Linked DNA regions of Homo sapiens. The protein of the gene in region 1 purifies or fractionates together with the protein of each later gene. This does not show direct contact. Each region holds a gene or a part of one and is shown on either strand. Other genes may lie near its edges.

Evidence for each region. Proteins that work in one complex are often made in the same cells at the same time.
Region 2: the proteins of TRIM59 (region 1) and ABHD5 purify together in Homo sapiens (affinity purification with mass spectrometry; 3 studies listed by BioGRID and IntAct, with this or other methods). This does not show direct contact.

The regions. Positions count from the first base shown.
Region 1 is NC_000003.12:160,435,003-160,439,786, forward strand, and holds the end of TRIM59 (tripartite motif-containing protein 59), read right to left. Parts: intron 4,185-4,784; 5' UTR 4,182-4,184; coding exon 2,970-4,181; 3' UTR 501-2,969; downstream 1-500. UniProt on the Homo sapiens protein: E3 ubiquitin ligase involved in different processes such as development and immune response. Serves as a negative regulator for innate immune signaling pathways by suppressing RLR-induced activation of IRF3/7 and NF-kappa-B via interaction with adapter ECSIT.
Region 2 is NC_000003.12:43,693,190-43,701,804, forward strand, and holds part of ABHD5 (1-acylglycerol-3-phosphate O-acyltransferase ABHD5), read left to right. Parts: intron 1-6,086; coding exon 6,087-6,172; intron 6,173-8,615. UniProt on the Homo sapiens protein: Coenzyme A-dependent lysophosphatidic acid acyltransferase that catalyzes the transfer of an acyl group on a lysophosphatidic acid.

The DNA of each region.
Region 1 (4,784 bases):
GGAAAAGTAAGTTTAAAGTGCTATAATGATAATCAAGTGTTTTCATTTGGTGCGAAAATAGAATTTAATACTTTTATTATATTTTAATAACCAATGCAGTAGAGCTCAGATTTTTTTTTTTTTTTTGAAAGTCTCACTGCATCACCCAGGGTGGAGTGCTGTGGCAAGATCTTGGCTCACTGCAACCCTGCCTCACGGGTTCAAGCGATTCAAGTGCCTCAGCCACATGAGTAGCTGGGACTACAGGTGCACACCACAGTGCCCAGCTAATTTTTGTGTTTTTGGTAGACAGGGTTTTGCCATGTTGGCCAAGCTGGTCTCAAACTCCTGGCCTCAAGTGATCTGCCTGCCTCAGCCTCCCAAAGTGCTGGACTATAGGCATGAGCCACTGCACCCAGCCTGCAGTACTAAGTTTCAAAGAATTAGAAGTACCCAGAACCCATGTGAAAATCCCATAGCTACCACTCCTGAGTATGGAAGTCTCATTAAGACAGTGCAAATAAAATATCAAAAGAAGTTTATTAAAATACATATTTTGTTATACATAAAACTTAGAAATATTTCAAGATTTACATACATCAACTTTTGCAATCTTCCTGCTGGTAAAAATACAAAACAGCAGCATAAGAACCAGTTACTCATATACTCAACTATATTCATGCATACTTAACAAAATGAAAAGTTCTCCTAAAAACTGGCAAGATACAAAATGTCAAATCTAAAATGATATATATACTTACGTTTTTAGCATTCTTACAGATTACAAACCCTTACCAACATTAATCTTGGCCTACTTTAAAGTTGAGTGATAGCATGAACTCTGAAAAGAGAATGCATGGGTTTTCTCACAGCTATATGGCCTTGGACAAGTCACTTGTCAGTTCCCTCATCTACAAAAAGGGGGTTAAAAATATTCACATCACAGAAATGAGATTAAGTAGTTTAACACATAATGGCTAACATTTCATTGCTTACGTGTTTTTGAAACTACAGGGCACTTTTATGGTGTGACTAGTATTTTAAGTAATCAGTGCAACTTAGTATTTTTATCTCTAGCTGAGTATGTGTCTCTCCTTACCTCTACTATGCCCTTTAAATGTTCTTTGCCCACACAATAGTTAATTGTGCTAGGTATAAGTCTGATTCTAATAATAAATTGATATAATACAGTCATCTTAGTGTTAAGACTTATTCTCAGCAGGTAAGAGTTTTAGAACTAGTTCCCTGAAAAAGCTGTATTTATGATAGTTTATGTGCAATCTGTAGGGCCAGGAGCATAGTCTAATCTGACCCAGAATGTCTTTTTGATTTGATATAGGTAAGGCTCTTCGGTGATCCAAGAGCAGCCCCTTTGGGATTTCTGGAAAGCAAATCAACCTGCACTTAGAGTTGCATGGACAGTGGGCCAAAAGTCGTAACACATGCATCATAACTCCAGTCCCTGTTAAAGGGAACTAAAGGGCTTTGATTTAATTGGCCCTCTTAAGCAAAGCTAATAAAAGATTAAGTTGTTGGGCCGGGCGTGGCGGCTCACGCCTATAATCCCAGCATTTTGGGAGGCTGAGGCGAGTGGATCATGAGGTCAGGAGATAGAGACCATCCTGGCTAACACAGTGAAACCCCATCTCTACTAAAAATACAGAAAATTAGCTGGGCGTGGTAGCAGATGCCTGTAGTCCCAGCTACTCGGGAGGCTGAGGCAGGAGAATGGTGTGAACCCGGGAGGCGGGGCTTGCAATGAGCCGAGATCACGCCACTGCACTCCAGCCTGGGCGACAGAGCAAGACTCCGTCTCAAAAAAAAAAAAAAAAAAAAAAAAAAAAGATTAAGTTGTTGGTACTTTTGCATTAGCTTAAGGGAATGTGGTAGAAAATTTAAATGAGTTAAGATGAATAAAGTCCACATGATGCCATCAAAACCTGTTGCAGACCAAGTTACCAACATGATTCTGTTCTAATAAGAATGAGTTTTTAATCCAAGAACTGATTTGACTGACGAGCAGAAAAAAAAACAATCTTAAATTTGCACAAACTATAGAATATGACAAGTATTAGAAAATGCTGGCCCCCAGGCACAGTGTGGCTAACGTCTGTAATCCCAGCACTTTGGGAGGCCAAGGTGGGCAGATCTCTTGAGCCCAGAAGTTTGAGACCAACCTGGGCAATATGGCAAAACCTCGTTTCTACAAAAAACAATTTTTTTAATTAGCCAGGCATGGGGGTGTGTGCCTTGTCCCAGCTGCTCCAGAGGCAGAGGCGGGAGGATCGATTGAGCCTGGGTGGTCGAAACTGCAGTGAGTCATGACCAGACAACTACACTCCAGCCTGGGCAACAAGGTGAGACCCAGTCTCAAAAATTTCTTTTAAAAAGCCACTTTACTCTAACAGTTATCCAAAAGCAATAGTTTTATTTGGAGTGAATGGTGATAAGCATTTAGGGCTCTTAAATCTATCTCAAACACAGGTATGTTTGATCAAAAGATCTTTAAGCCATGCCTTATCACTTTAAGACTTTGTTGCTTGATTTTGAAACCTTTCTATCATCCTTATTCACCCATTCAAAAGCTTCAAGCCACATCAAAATAAAGGTATATGTTCTTTCAGGATTTTGCTATATATATAAAGAACTGTAAAGCCAATTAACTGCAGTATATAATAATGGTAAAAGACAATATTGGTACAAGAATGTTTAAATGTCACAGCAACATTATGTCAACCATCATAAAGCCAATAAAAATGGGATAGTGTATTACTTTTCAAATTGTTACTAGATTCTGTTTCCCAAAGATTTGACTATTTCAGATATAACTTTGACATATCATTGCTAACCAAAAGAAGCAACAAATATAAACATTTGTTTATATTAGTTGCAGCACTAATAAAGCTTAGTTTGCTCTTTATCCATGCTACCCCATTTTTTGTTTAGCAATGTACAGAATAAGCCCATTTAAACAATTCAGGTTGACATTTTCAATGGGAAACTATTTTCCACACAAATTCCTTCAACAAATAGAAAATGTGACACAGTATATTCTTTACCTTATGCAGACTGTTAGATAAACTTTGGTAAACAGATAGAGAGGCTTCAGAAAACCATATTAAAGTGATTTCACTTAAAAAGGTTATGATGTGTTGGTTGAAAAAGAGTATCGACATCAGTATTACTGAAATTAATGTAACTACAACAATGTTTAAAATTTTTAAAAATTCAACTTCCTTTTCATCCTTACCAGGCCAGGAACATGACATCCTTTTTGGAGAAATTTTCATTTTGGGAATGAGAACGTTCTTAATTTGTCCAATTTCTGTTCTGCTCCATTCTTCTTTCAATATTTTGCTTACTCGAGGATAAATTTCAACGGGTTGAACCTCAGGAAGTGGTCTTTGTTTCAAGATCTGTACATGCTGGCGTACATCATCAACTTTTTCAAGAAATTTAAGTGGAGACTCTTCTTGTAAAGATATTGTCAGTGCCATTAATTCAAGCTGCTGCTCTCGTATTTCCTTCATTCTTTCAATTTGTGGAGTATATTCTTGATTAATTAGATTGCCAACATCACAGAGAGCCGTTAGGAAACTTTTTTTTTTCTGTTCTAATGTATCATTAAGCTCCTTAAAATACTGGAGAACAGCTTCCTTATCGCCTTGGATCATTTTCTCAGAATGAGATTTTTGTTCTTTCAGCTTTTCAATAAGATGGGTAAGATCTGTCCAGTGTGTGTCAGTCAACTGTTCAAGCAGTTTTTGAGGAGTGTCCTTTTCTTTCAAATAGGCACTTTGAAGGTCATCTATAGGATGACCATGATGTTGACCTATGGTAAGGCAATGACCACAAACTAATTTTTTATCTAATAGACAGTAAACATTTAATGGTTGCCTGTAATGTTCAGGGCAGGTGACAATATCTGGATGGTCTTCTTGCTGGTACTTTTCAATAATAGCCCTTAGTGCAAAATTAACAGGTAAAGATTCAATGCCAGTTGGAGCAATTTCAGTAATACTTCTGCAATTAGGGCACTTGAGTGGAATTCGTAAAGGTCTCCATATATAAAAGTTACCAGATGCCTGAAGAATGTTTTCCAAACAATTTCTACAAAATGTATGAGAGCATGGCAGTACACGAGGATCTTCAAAAATACTATAACATATGGGACAAGTTAACTCTTCCTCAAAATTGTGCATTTCCTGTCAAGAGAAAAATGTATTTTAAGTTTACATAGAGACACCTGTACATATTATTTAACATTCTAGGCATTAACCTCCAAATTGTTACCATACTGCTTGTCATTTAAAAGAGAACAAGGTATTTTTAAAATGAAGTTTTCTGAGTAATTCATTTCCTAGTATATATAGTGAATAACTGATCACAATTAAGAGTTTATTCCTTAGGGACCAAAATCATCCCAAACAAAGCAATTATCATTAATTTGTAGTAAAATGCTTCAAATTTAAGTTATTTAAATTTGTTGCTATGTGATATGGTTTGGCTGTGTCTCCACCCAAATCTCATCTTGAATTGTAGCTCCCATAATTCCCACATGTTGTGGGAGGGACTCAGCGGTAGATAACTTTAGTCATGGGGGCAGTTCCCCCATACTGTTCTTGTAGTATCACGAGATCTGATGGTTTTGTAAGAGGAAACCCCTTTTGCTTCACTCATTCTCTTTTCTTGTCTGCCGCCATGTGAGACGTGCCTTTCACCTTCTGCCATGATTGTGAGGTCTCCCCAGCCATGTGGAACTGTGAGTCCATTAAACCTCTTTTTCCTTATAAATTACCCAGTCT
Region 2 (8,615 bases), about 120 Mb from region 1:
TAAAAGAGGTGATTTGCAGTTGTGTGCTGGAGTTGATTTGTACCAGCAAGCCATTGCTAAATTTTCAGGAATTTTGCCAACGGTTGGCAGCTTGAAATTGGCCATGGTGGGAGTATTTACACCACGGAAATCATCAAATGCTATAAATAAGGTATAAATAAGGGATTTTTCTCTCCCCTCCCTGCTTCAGTTTGTTTGCCAGCTCCCCACTGGGTTTACATTAGACTGTGAATGTAGGTCTTTGCCTTGGAGATAGGAGAGTGGATTTCTCTATCTAATCTTTTTAAAAACTGGCAAGATATGTGCCTTTCTCTCTGCTGCCTTCTCTCCTTCCCAAACCTTTGCCACCTGATATCTTAAAAATCACAAAACTTTTCACTGCCACATCCCAATGGCCTTCTAGTTTTTTTCAGTACTTCTTCTTGGGTCCTTTTTGGTGTTTGTTACTGTAATGATAGCTACTACTTTTTGAAACTCTTATTAGACATTCTAGGTCTTAATGACATTTTGCCTTTTATCTTACCTTACCTGACCAACAATAACTTTTATTAGTTTCTCCTCTTTTTTTTTTTTTTGCATTCTCTAAATGTAGTCATTTTCCAAGATTCTGTCATCATCCTTGTTTTTATTTTTCATCTTGTTTACTCAAACGTGAACTGTCTTGTCTGTGGAGATGACTCAGATCTCATTTTCTTTCTGGAGCCCTCTTCTGTACTCTGGTAATGTTTCTAATTGTCAGATGTTTGTGCCTGATTCCTCAAATTTAACATGTCCAGACCATGATCTTATTTTTACCTTCCTGCTCCTAAACTAAACGATATAAAAAGCTTAGTTCTGGCCGGGCGCCGTGGTTCACGCCTGTAATCCTAGCACTTTGGGGTAACACCGTGAAACCCCGTCTGTATTAAAAATACAAAAAAATTAGCCGGGCAAGGTGGCGGCGCCTGTAGTCCCAGCTACTCGGGAGGCTGAGGCAGGAGAATGGCGTGAACCCAGGAGGCGGAGCTTGCAGTGAGCCGAGATCGTGCCACTGCACTCCAGCCTGGGCGACAGAGCAAGACTCCGTCTCAAAAAAAAAAAAAAAAAAAAAGCTCAGTTCTTCCTCTTGAAACATTATATTGGCTTAATCATTGCCTTGACTAATTGTTAGATTATTAGTTTAATCTCATGGTTCTGTAATTCCCACTCCTGATTGTGAGTTACTAAAAAAAATCATATGGAGAGGTGATTTTATTAAAACTGATTATTCAGTTGAGACCTAGGATTTTTAGTTTTATTCTCTTTATTATCTAGTGAATGAACTTATTTTAGAACTGATGCAAAGAAATGTCACTGACTTGTTAAGTAGAGTACACCTGTGGCTTCTTCAAGTGTGTTTGATAATGAGGTCATATAAGTGACTCTAAAATGGTTTGTTTACTGTGTGAAGGAAGGTAGGAAACAATGGGGAGATACGTGTTACCAGCACATGGCTTGTCTAAAACACTTATACTACCAATCTGAGTCTTTAAAAGTTACAGGTTGGGGGGGGAGGGGCAGTTAAAACAGTATTAATTAATGTGTTAACATATATTAGAGGGCCTGGATTGTCATTGATCTAATAGTGATAATTTGAATCACTTAAGTATCATTTATCCAAAATAAAATGGCATGTTAGTCACTTAAATTGTAGCTGTATGAGACCATATTCTTTTTTTTTTGTTTGTTTTCCAGAGACAGGTTCTTGCTCTGTCACCCAGGCTGGAGTGCAGTGGCACAATCATGGCTCACTGCAGCCTCAACCTCCTGGGCTCAAGCAATCCTGCCACCTCAGCAACTTGCCCCCCAGCCCCTGTATTCCACCCCCCCAAGGTTGCTGGGACTATAGGCATGTGCCAGGCGGCTGGGACTACAGGCATGTGCCAGGCAGCTGGTCTTGACCTCCTGACTGAGCTCAAGCAATCCTCCCACCTCAGCCTCCCAAAGTACGCTTTTTTCTTTTCTTTTTCTCTTTCCCAAGAATAGGATTTAAAAAGTCAATTCCCAAGAAAGGTCTTTATTTACCCAAGTGTTATAATTTCCAATTTGGATGTTTTTAGTCATTGGTTGAGGAAGTATCTCAGATAAATATAAATGTAAATATAAATAAATGTATATATTCATACCTGTAATTCATTTGGATATTTATAATAAAAATCAAAGCCTCATGGTTTCTTTAAATGAGATAGAGAGCTGTGCTTAGGTTTATCAAGAGCAATAAGTTTATGTGATTTTTCTCTCTCAACTACTAGAATAGGAATGGAGGCCATTTTAAACAAAATTTTAATATAATGAAATCCTCTTTACTTATAACCTAATTAGAAATATTAAGTGGCCAAGAGTGTATGGAAACTGGCCAGATTTCTGCATATTTTCTTCAGAATACTTCGAAACCTCTTTCACTGTTTCATAATGTTTATAGATTGTGCAATTCAGGTTTAGTAATACTGTAGATAGACAGATGTGTTAAAGAACAAAACAGAGATTACCAGGAAACTTAAGTGTTGATAGTATGGAGTATAAGTATGACATAATATTTTTTTAGAAGGATTACGTAAAAAGTTAATGGAAAAAGTGGTGTCTATCTCTCACTCAGGATACTTAAAGTCAGATTCTTAGGTAAAATATACTCTATTAATATGTTAAGCACATCTTACTTGGCTTTCCTTAGAATTGTCACCTCTGATGTGATCTTTTATAACTTTTCTTACTCAAAAGTCTGCTCACTAAAAAGATTCTTAGTTTGCACTACAATGGTTGTAAAACAAGAATCCTTTCTTTTTTTGTTTTTGTTTCTGTGATTAGATGCTTTAGGGCTTATATCCTTTGCCTTGCTAATAAGGTAAGTGCCCAACTGATGGGGCTGTGTAGAAAACTTTTTGGCTTGCATTGGTAAGCTTTCCCCATGTCATAGATGCTTACTATTAGAAAGCTATAGTTCCTGTGGTGAATGACTTCTCTTTGTATTACAGTTGACACTTTGGTCACTGTTGAATTTAGGCCTCAGTGATGGATGATAGTGTTTATTGCTTGTCTCCTTAAATAAAATAGAGAAGTTAGGTTTTGCTTTTCTATTTATTTTCCAAAGCTATGAGGAAGAGGCATTGAATCTAGTTTACTGTTTTATAGGTGGGCTGTGTGAATTTAATTTTTGCCTTGAATTTTGTGACCTCAGAAGAATGGCAGAATATCTGACAAGCTTCAGTCCTGTGTCCTTAGTTCCAGTCTTCTATATACTAAACCTAGGAATGCTGAGCAACACTGAATGGCATAGGATACCACTGGGGAGGGGGCAAAGGGTCTCTTTGAAGGTGAGATTAATTTATCCCGAAGACAGGAGGTAGAGTTGGATGGGTAAGTTTTAAAGGGTTGAAGCAATAGAGGTTGCAAGGTAAGGTATGAGACCTTTGAACAAACAGGAATCAACTAAAGGGTGGAAAAGATAAGGCCCTTGCTTTTTACTCATTGGAAATGTTCCTTGAAGCCTATTATGTATATAACACTTAATCCTGTAGAGTGTCTCAAAGAAGCAGAGGATAGTTTCTGTAAAACATTTAATCATCTGGTTAAAGTGAAACTGGACAGAAGCATTATCAGGGCTTAGGGGAAGAGTGCTATCTTTACAATTCCATTAAGAGTAAAAATATCTTGCTATGTTTTGTTAAATATATATTTTTCTGTTAGAAAAAAACCCACTTTAAAAAATCACCTGTTTTGATGAAAATGCTTCTGTGAAAACCTGAAGAGAGTTGGTGCCTCTTCTTATGGTTGAAGATCCCTACTTTTTAATGTAAGCTTACAAACATGAAAACATGTTTTGCCCCTTCTCTGAGTTGAGCTGGTCACTAGAAGGCAAATCCATGGACAGACAGTCCCATTGTTTGAAAGCTGGTTTTGTGGTAAGTGGTAAGTTGGTGGAGGTAGGCATGATTCTTCCATTACAGGCTGGTATGTAACTTTTTAAACACTGGTGCTTTGTACATAGTAGGTATTCAGTGTCTGAATTATTTTTTGAGTGTCGTTTTTTAAAAAAGTATCCTTTTTTAATGCAAAGAATGCATTTGTGTTTTCTTTGCCCCAGTTTGTCTGTGATATCAACTGGAGCAATAGTAGCTTATACTTCATTTCACTGTAATTTTTTTTAATTGACCTCTGATTCTCTCTGGCAAATAATTGTGATATGGTTCGAGGGATGTTTGTTTAAGACAATGGATGAGATTGAGTTGTAAGTAATTTCTTGTTGGTACTAGTTCATATTTTTATGGTTAAATATAGACCTAATGGCTGGTCAAGGACAAAAGAGCTTCACCTTTAACCTCTAAAAATCATGAGTTCTTTTATTTTAATGGCCTGTGTATTAGTCCATTCTCATGCTGCTATAAAGAACTACCTGAGACTGGGTAATTTATAAGAGCTGTGCAAAGCCATAGAGACATGTAATCATATGAAATTTTGAGAGATATGAAGTACTGGAAAAAGTACAATATATGAAAAGAAAAGATGGGATGGAGGTAGGCTGTGGATGGATTGCAAAGTACCTTCTGTGCAGGTCCAGGAAAATATAGACTTATCCTGTAGGTAATGGGCAACCCTTCAGACATTTTAAGGAAGGTAGTCATTTGAGAAAAAAGCACTTTGGAGTGGCTCAGAATCAAACTTACTTACTTACTAGCTGTATACCCTTGGACTTGGTGCTTAACATTTCTGAACTTCAGTTTTTACATCTATGAAATGGGGATAATTTGGACTGAGAATCCCCTGGATTGTGAGTGACTTAATCACTCAGCAAACATTATTGATTGAGTACCTGTTATACGTAATATCCAGATAAATTCTACAGGGAAGGGAAATATAGTAGGATGAACCTACAAAGGTAAGAAAAGCTAGATGTTGGTACACAACCCTTCCAAAACTTAGCACATTTTCCTCTCACACCTATTCTTACTCTTGTGTTGTCTGTCATTATAGTGGTAACCTAAGAGAGACGCCTGGGAATCCTTATTATAACTTCTTTATCTCCAACCAGTTATCAAATCCAACCTGTTTTCCTTTTAAATATTCTTTGACTACATCTTCTTGTCTCTATCCCTGTTGCCAAAGCCTTGGATTGGGCCCTTACCTCTCATCTGGACTCTGCAGTAGTTCACTTTTCCTCTTCTAATTCATTTCTTTTTCATCAGAAAGTTCTCATTTTAAATAATACCAGCCATGCACCGAGCCCTTGCTAACTGTCAAATGACTACTGAAGCTCTGCATTATGTCAGGTTATTACAGTAAGCTTTTGGTTTGTGACTGCCAGGCCAGGAGTTGAGGCTTACCCTCTCTTTTGTTGGCTACAAGCAAAGTATGTCAACTGCAGCCTCCCCATGCCTTTCCTCACTAGCTGCCTCAGATCTGCTTCCTTGTTCTTTGTTGTGCTGTCTTCTGATGGATGCTTTGGTCGTTCTGTTCATCTACTGTTTGCTGAAACCCAAAGCTTTTTTGTACTTCTATTAACAGTTAACCAGTTCACCCTAAGGAGATTGTACGCAGACCAGCCTCCCACATTTGTGTTAGGGGTATGTTACTACTCATATGAGATTTGAAGCCTTCTTTTTCCCCAAAAAATGGTCGATCTCAGATTTTAATAAGGTGCCCCTTTTCTCAACCCCCATAGAGGTACCTTTTATATTCACTGTGAAACTGTCATTCAAATGAATCTACTCCTGGTCTTTAACTTTTTTTGCACTTCTACCCCAATAAGAGGCTGTCTTGCAGTGGGGAGGAATGCATTTTTTGTGTTTTCTTGTTCTTCCCATTTTATCCTCTTTTTGCTTATTTGGAATCTGACTATCCATGAATAAGATGGACTTTGAGATCTACTTGTAAGTACACAGGCTGAAGTTGAATATCTGTATCCCAGTACTTACCACCATGCTTTGTGCATGTTAGGTCACTTTTGTCACACATAGCTTTACCATCACACAGGTAGTAAATTTCCTGTGCTGCCTTTCTTCTGTGCATGTGACAATTGGTAGTTGAGAAGAGCATGAACTCACCTATTTGTTATTTTGTTTTTGGTGCTCTAGGTCAGGATGGCTAACTGGTTGGCTCCCCACATGGTGCCCTACGTCTATATCACACCTTAAAGAAGCTGAAGAGAAGATGTTAAAATGTAAGGCTTTCTTCTTGTAAGTTAAATGAGCTGTGTACTAAGATAGGTCCAATATATCTCATTGCCCTGAAACTGGAGGTAAGATTCTGTGGTGTGTTCATTGTTGGCAAAATAACTTTTTTCCTTTTCCTTGTCATTAGAAAGTACAGAAATGAATGTCGGGGGCTGGCAGGTAGGAGTTCTAAAACTTTTTGGTCTTGGGCCCCTGTTATACTCTTAAATTAGTAAGGACCCCAAGGAGATTTGTTTATGGGCTTATTATCAATATTTATCATTTCTAATACAATTAGAAATTAAAATTGAATAATCAAAAATGTTAATTTATTAATTTCTTTAAAAATAATAGTAAACCCATTACAGATTAAAATAAATAAAATTTGTACCAAAAAAAGAAAAAAAATACTTTCCAAACATTGTTTACATGTTTACAAATGTCTTTAATGTCTAGCTTGACATAAGGTTGCTGCTTCTGCTTTCAGTCTGATGGGTAATCACATATGTGACTTCTGGAAGACTACTTTATACCTATTAGAGAATGAGAGTGAAAAATAGAAAGTCTTAGTATTATGATGAAAATAGTTTTGACTTCCTGGATCTCCTCGAAGAGTCTCAGGGACACCCCCCCTGACTCTGCTTGAGACTATGCTTTGAGAACAGATTCTAGGTGTTTCAGAGCAAGCAGCCTTGTATAGTGGAAGTACTAGACTGGACCCAGGTAACTTGGTCTAGGCCCAGATCTGCCACTAGGTGGTTACAAGATCTTGGACAAGTCACTTTGCTCAGCTTCTCATTTCTTATAAAATGAAGGGGTAGGATTCTTATAAAATGAATGGGTCCATAGAATTCCTTCTAGTTCTAGCATTCTAGGATTCTATATTTATAGTGGTGTGGAAGCCCCTTTTTTTTCCTTCTTATGAGCACTAAAATTTACCCAAACTTGTACCATCAGGGCATTCCAAGGTATCTGTGGGTGTAGTTCTAAGTAGTGGTACTTATTGTGCAATTTTGTTCTGCTGATTCTACTTAAAGGAGTGGATTAGGTAGTACCATTCATATTCATGTGTTATTTTTGTATGTAGGTGCAGATGTTTGTACATGCCTGTTTTTCATTCTCTTTACCACTAATGAATTTGTTTGTGCATTTGAATGATTCAGGAGTAAGTGACCATAACTGGATATATCCTTAGGAAGGGATAATTAGCCATCTTTCATGAATTTTTTTTTTTTTTTGAGATGGAGCCTTGCTCTGTTACCCAAGCTGGAGTGCAGTGGCACAATCTCAGCTCACTGCAACCTCTGCCTCCTGGGTTCAAGCAATTCTCCTGCCTCAGCCTCCCAAGTAGCTGGGATTACAGGCACCTGCCACCATACCCAGCTAATTTTTGTATTTTTAGTAGAGATGGGGTTTCGCCATGTTGACCAGGCTAGTCTTGAACTCCTGACCTCAGGTGATCCACCTGCCTCGGCCTCCCAAAGTGCTGGGATTACAGGCATGAGCTACCACGCCCAGTTATTACATGGATTTTTAACATGATAATGAACTTCTATTCCATATACTTGGGTAAACTTGCTCTCTACAAAACTAAGAAAGATGTCATTGTGATTTACCAAAATAAAAAAATTCTTATCAGGAGGTAAAAAAGGGGTGCTAGATTCTCAATTCATGCATTTAACAGACATAATGATTCCCTTCCTTTTGGTTCTAGGGATGCAAATAGGAATGTGAATTGGTCTCTGCTTTAGTGTCAGACATGAAAGTAAGCTACGGTGGAGTGAGTTCTCTAATAGTTATACAGATGGTTTTTATGGGAATACACAGACGTATGTGTTCAAAATGCTGAAGTGGTTTGGCTTGGCACTTAAGCCAAAGCAGCCCCTTTTCTAAACTAGTGGTATTTCCCCCAACTTGAGGGCTTGTGCTCCATTAATATTCTGAATGAATGTTAGGTTTCTTCTTTGCTGCCACTATGTGGATACAAAACATGATATTATTTCTTTGGTTAAAAGGCAGAAACTCCTGTTTCTTCAGTGTCTTGTTTACTGTATATGAATATGCATAAATAATTAAGGGGTATATCAAAAATGCAGCTGTTCAGTTGATAGTTAAATATAAATGATTTCAAATTTAATTTCATTTTTAGGCAATTTTTGGGAGTGTTTAAAGTATTTAGTTCCACAACATTAAAGGTAAAAAAGAGTTTTGGTCTATAAAATTGTGACTATTTGCTTTTTCTAGGAGATTACTAGAGTTGGACCCAAGTTACCTGGTGTGTCATGCTGAGGAGTTCCTACAATACTTTGTCAACCTTTTTTTGAAATGACTTAAGGTTTCACTTACATGTTTAACATAGATACCAGTAATCCTTCCCTAAATTCATGACTACTTTTTAAGGAAAAATGATGCCTTTAAGCCTGACTTCAACTCAAAGTTAACCAAAGAATA